Regions from separate parts of the Homo sapiens genome. Here region 2 is linked to region 1. Evidence: fine-mapped QTL for protein levels in blood plasma. A gene starts in region 1. The other region holds a variant in brackets. All regions are shown on one strand. Distances are between the middles of the regions.

Region 1 (2,916 bases):
GAGGCGGGTGGATCACCTGAGGTCAGGAGTTCGAGACCAGCCTAGCCAACATGGTGAAACCCTGTCTCTGCTAAAAATACAAATTAGCCGCGAGTGGTGGCGTGCACCTGTAGTCCCAGCTACTCAGGAGGCTGAGGCAGGAGAATTGCTTGAACTGGGGAGGCAGCAGTTGAAGTAAGCCGAGATCGTGCCACTGCACTCCAGCCTGGGCAACAAGAGTGAAACTCCGTCAAAACAAAACAACAACAAAAAACAAAAAAAACTCCTCAAATGTGAAGCTGAGAATTTTGAAGCTCATTTATAAATTCACACCACCCTTGTGGGAGGGGAGAGAAGGCAGATCACATCTCTGGGCTCAGTTGGGGCAACCATTCTAGGATGCTCAGAGAGACCTGCTCCTAGAAATCCAGAGTTTCCTAAAAGCTGGGATCAGAGTTCTGGCAAGAAGGCTGTAGCCTGGGCCTTGGCCCTAGACCACCAAAAAAGTGAATACAGGCTTAGGCAGTGTTCATAGAGGCCCAGCATCTGGAACAAGGGTGCTGCTGTAGTCTGTGCTGGTCAGACCACACAGGAAGAATTGTTTATTTTCCGGATACTATGATTTTAAAAGGATACAAGCAAATTGGTGTGTATCAAAAGGAAGCTGACCAGAATGTTGAAGGGACTTGGAAACCAAATCACTAGTTACTTTTCAGTGGTTTGGGCTCCAGGACTGGAGGGGGTTTAGGGTGGGGGGTAGAGGATGGTGTTAGGCAGCATAGATAATTAGAACTGTTTTCAGATATGCAAATGCTGTTTTGTGAAAACACACACACACGCGAACACACACAAAACAAGAAAAACTTGTACTTTAGGTAAGGCCAGAAAACAGAACTGGGACCCGTGGGATTTAAGCTCAACATGAAGAATCTGTAAACCATTATAGCTCTTCAAAAGTGGGCTAGACTTTGTAAGCACGCAAGGTTTAAACTGTTCAGGTAAAGACCAGGAAGCCCTCCAGCTGCTCTGTCCAGACCGAGGCCGGCTCTCCAAGTCCGCGCTGGGGACGATGGGAGGTGTGCACCTGCGACAGAACACAGGTACCGCCAGGTCCGGGTAGCGGTGGCTTTTCGCCGAGGTCCCCCGCCTCCGCATACTTCTTGCCCTCGCTGCTTCCCCGGCCGCCTCTCCTGGCCCCACTCCTCGCCCGGCGCTCGCCGCTACAACTCCCGCCTGGGCTGGCGCGAGACCCGCGAGCGCCGGAGTGGGCGCGCGGGATGCGCGCGGGCCGGCGCCCGGAGCTCTGGGCATGCTCAGTCGCGCGGGCAGGGCTCCGGGCGCGAGCTGGGCTCCTTCTGCACCACATTCAGCGGCTGCCAAGAGGAGCCGACGGGCGCTCGCAGGCTCAGCGCGCGCTGCCCGCGGCAGGACCCGGCCGCCTCCGCCGCCGCCGCCGCCCCTAAGCCTCCCGAAGCCATGGCCGGGCTCGGCCACCCCGCCGCCTTCGGCCGGGCCACCCACGCCGTGGTGCGGGCGCTACCCGAGTCGCTCGGCCAGCACGCGCTGAGAAGCGCCAAGGGCGAGGAGGTGGACGTCGCCCGCGCGGAACGGCAGCACCAGCTCTACGTGGGCGTGCTGGGCAGCAAGCTGGGGCTGCAGGTGGTGGAGCTGCCGGCCGACGAGAGCCTTCCGGACTGCGTCTTCGTGGAGGACGTGGCCGTGGTGTGCGAGGAGACGGCCCTCATCACCCGACCCGGGGCGCCGAGCCGGAGGAAGGAGGTAACTGCCGACTCGAGGGGCGCGGCCGGGGCGCGCGCCAGGCCCTCCCCCGCCGCCGGCCGCCGTGTTGCCTGGGGAGTCGCGCCATTGGCCCTCGGGCTAGTAGTTCACAACTTCCCGTCGGGGGGCGAGTGTGTGTGTGTGTGTGTGTGTCAGAGAGTCAGAGAGAAGTTCATTGTTCACACCTCCCGGCTGCCGGCAGCCTTCTGGAGGATCCGATTCAATGTGGTTGTACGGTCTCGGGCAGGTGGGTGGGCGGGGGATTCCGTCTCACGGGCATTTTTATTTGTGAAAATTAAACGGCAGCGACGACAGTGCAACTCTGAGTGTTTCCCAGGGAGCGAGGGCCGCGAGGGGTGCCGCTCCGGTAGGGCGGGTGGAGGCTGGGCGTCCCTCCAGGGGGCAGCGCCAGTCGTGACACCGAAGCCCCCAAGTCCTGCCTGGCGCTCGGAGCAGGACAAGCTGGATGAATTAACGGGGTGTCGGTGCCCACAGACCTGGGGCTTCTCAAGTTAGTTTTCAGTGGTGGCGAGTGAGTCCCAAAGAACGGGACTAGTAAGTGAATGAATGGAAGGAAAAGTGTTTTGTTGGTGAGCTGTGCTAAATGTGTGCATGAATGGGCTAGGTTTGAAAAGCTGTACTCTGTGCGGTGTTGGGTGTGTGTGCTAGCGAGCGTGTTTAATTAGAGATGGTTGTTTCACAAATTCCATAATTTTTATTCTCTATATTTTTAAACTCACAGCAATTAAGAGAGTTTTTCTGTTCTCAAGGGTTGTAACTACTTTGAAATACTGCAGCTTGTGAAATGGCTGATTGCTTTAAGTGCAATGTAGGTTAGTGGGGAGAGACAAATAGAGTGAGATTGGATTTTAAAATGCCATCTGGCCTGGGATTCTTCTCATTGCCAGTTAAGAGCCCAGGCTCAAGACTCCGTTGCTATTGGCATCCAGTGGCATTGCAAGAAGCTAGTGGTTTCTTTCATTTCTGGAGATTTAAGAATTTTTTTTCTATTTTGTCTGTATTCACTTCACATTGGAAATGCCTCATAGAGCTTATGATAAAATATGCTTATTCCTCACCTGCTCCACTACTTGGTTGATGGAATGCCACATGGTCTGAGAAAATAAGCATATTCTACTAATTTCTCATCGAGATAAT
Region 2 (2,916 bases), 330 kb before region 1:
GAAGATCAATAAACATTTGGGAATTGAATGTTCTTTTTTTTTTTTTTTTTTTTTTTGAGACGGAGTCTCGCTCTGTCGCCCAGGCCGGAGTGCAGTAGTTGCGATCTCAGCTCGCTGCAACCTCCACCTCCCAGATTCACGCCATTCTCCTGCGTCAGCCTCCCGAGTAGCTGGGACTACAGGCGCCCACCACCATGCCTGGCTAATTTTTTTTTTTTTGTATTTTTGGTAGAGACGGGGTTTCACCATGTTACCCAGGATGGTCTCGATCTCCTGACCTCATGATCCACCCGCCTCAGCCTCCCAAAGTGCTGGGATTACAGGCGTGAGCCACCGTGCCCGGCCAGGAATTGAATGTTCTTTGCATAGTTGTTAGGATCTTGGAGACCTGGGTTTAAAATCTAGATGCGATAGGTATTTGACATCTTAAGCAGCATTTATAAAATGAGTACAATAGTATTATACTTAATCCATATGGTTTTTATAAGAATCAAATGAAATATTGTATGTAAAATGCATAGTACACTGCATGTATTTATTGGGTATCATCTTTTCATAATAATAAATATAAATGGTTAAGCTTACATGCATTCATTCAAAAAATAATTTGTTTCGTGCCTACTAAGAGCCAGGAGTTAGGGAATATAGCAGTTAATCATGGTCAAAAAACTGCCCTCATGGAGTTTGGTGTGTTCACAGGGTTGTGGGAGAATCAAATAAGATAGTATGAGTAGATTATTTGTAATTTTTTGAATAAAAGGATAGACATTTATTTCTCTATAATGATGTGAACCCAGACATATCTAAGAGTCAAAGTATAGATGAAACATCTTCTTTCAGTCCCTGTTAGTCCTGTGATTGGATGTCAAGACCTGGGTAAAGGAGATTTCATAAAATACCTTTATTTTGTCAAATATCATAGTGACATTTGCACTATTTTTTAGGATTGATAAAACATCAGTTGTAAATAATTTCTGTGAAGTAAAACAATGTTGAAATACCTGTATTCATTAAGGTTGAGCAAGAGATTGTATACCCTTGATGTGAGTCAAACAGACCTGTCTTCACTACCTTACGACCTGCCTCAGCTGTACTCTCAGTTCCATAAGCTTTAATATGTTTAGAAATTCAAAACTAAAATTACCTCCTAACTTTAGTATATAGCTCATTCATAAATCTTATTTCTAGCAATTGGCTACATTACTTATGATTGGCACGGCAGGAAAATATTATGAATGCTACATTATTTATGTAAAATGTAGCCTTGCATATAATCACCTAATAATTACCATCCCACATATTTTTAAACACCAATCCTTTGCAGGAAGGGATATATTTAGTAAACCAAATAAAACGAGAAATTCCTACTTAAACAGAAGTGTTTTGAGTTGCTCAGACTAAAGGAAGTAAAGTATTATTTATATAACTTCTGGGTTTGCTGGCTTAAGAAAAAAAATAGTACTTACATTGCCTAATAATCTAGGATATTATATTTGTACTACAGAAAGTAAATTAATTTTAAATTAATTTTTCTTATTATCTTCTCACATAGTTAATAACTATATAAACATAATGCTCTGTACACATAAGGTGCCTGGCAGAAGAGAAAGGAAAAAACTTTTTTTAGAAAAATGTTA[A/T]GGTAGTACTTTAAAGAAAAATATCAACCAATATGAAGTTCAGTGTCATTTTGTCATTCTACTATGAGAAATCAATAAAATTGATATTCGAAATATTTGTAATTTCACTCAGCATAACTTTAAATATAATATTTTTAGCTATTTTTAGAATGTAGATTTTTATCGTTGCCTGGATTTAACAAATTTTATTTTTTATTGCTTATTTTTTAATATATTTGTTTCAATCCTAATGAGAATATGACGGCTAAGCCAAGGAGCTGGGGGAATAACAGAGTGACACTTTCTTTGGTATGTTTCACTATTATGTACAAATAAGTAATCATCATTCCAAAATTTGTCTCTGTATCTTTTTTCTAAATGTGTGCATATAGCACCATTTTCCTTCCCAGATCTTTCCATTCAGTTCTAAAATGAAGGCAGACTTGCACTAAAACAATTTCTTCCTTTTCCCAGAGGGAAGTCAAAGTGAAAAGCAATGCCTTCTTTCCTTAACTGACACCAGATCAAATAAAATAATACAAACCATAATGCTATTCATTTCTGACAAATGGAATGCACTCAATAAAAAGCAACTCTTGCAGTTGTGGTTGATGTTGTTGTTGTCATTACTGATCGAAGTACTTGTTTCTTTAGAGTCCAAAGGCTTAGGAAGCCATGGGTTTCAGTCCTGTCAAAACTGACAACACTTTCCTGCTAGGTTTAAAACTTATTTCGGTAGGGAGACTGGCTCCTATCTGAGAATAAAGGAAGTCTCTGGTCATGCGACACCATGTACTCTTATAATTATATTAATTTTTAATACACATGTAAGCTGTTCATTGATTTTTGGCATCTCTGACCAAAGTTAATAATAATTATAATTATATTTACTTTTTAAAATTTACCCAGAATGATTTAACATAGGCTGAATTGTTTTAGACAAATCATTTAGAAGACACTGGAAAGAATGCCTAGGGTTAGCATCTGTTTCTCTTGCAAACAAAATTAATCAGCCATCTGTGTAATAAGAAATGTTTGTTCTTTACTTGTATGAAACATTGTTTGGAACGTTGAACAGAACACTCTGCTATCATCCTCAAATTTCTCTCTAAGAAACCAACAAGCATAGTAAATGACTTGGACTATATTCATTCTACTGGGTTAAATATCTGATGGCACTGCAAGTAAAATGAAGTTGCTAGTTTACAGTTAACCCTAATGACAAGTTTTGTGCTCCTTATTATTCTCAGTCAAAAGTACATCTTGACTTCAAGAGTGGTCAGTAGTTTCTGAATGTCCA

Alleles and levels. Positions count from the first base shown, and alleles are read on the strand shown. Strength reflects both the effect of a copy and how common the allele is.
For the plasma level of the protein whose gene starts at base 1,342 in region 1, T is the low allele of the variant in region 2 and A is the other (weak association).

What was found. A credible set is the group of variants that fine-mapping cannot tell apart. PIP is the chance, under the fine-mapping model, that this variant and not a neighbour inherited with it causes the effect. The UK Biobank Pharma Proteomics Project read protein levels with antibody pairs (Olink). The fine-mapping took linkage between variants from a reference panel, not from the people measured, so its PIPs are less certain.
Region 2: its variant is the best candidate, but not a certain one, in a credible set for the plasma level of the DDAH1 protein (UK Biobank, PIP 0.82).

The regions. Positions count from the first base shown.
Region 1 is chr1:85,463,585-85,466,500 of GRCh38, reverse strand. It overlaps DDAH1 (dimethylarginine dimethylaminohydrolase 1), which reads left to right and starts at 1,342. Exons shown (of 6, transcript NM_012137.4): 1 at 1,342-1,758. The coding sequence starts at 1,456. RefSeq lists silencers at 1,084-1,493, 1,734-1,933.
Region 2 is chr1:85,794,348-85,797,263 of GRCh38, reverse strand. The region is part of intron 47 of COL24A1 (collagen type XXIV alpha 1 chain); the gene reads left to right. Among named protein-coding and RNA genes, the nearest start is that of ZNHIT6, 87 kb to the right of the region's middle. The variant A/T (reference allele first, on the strand shown) is at 1,638.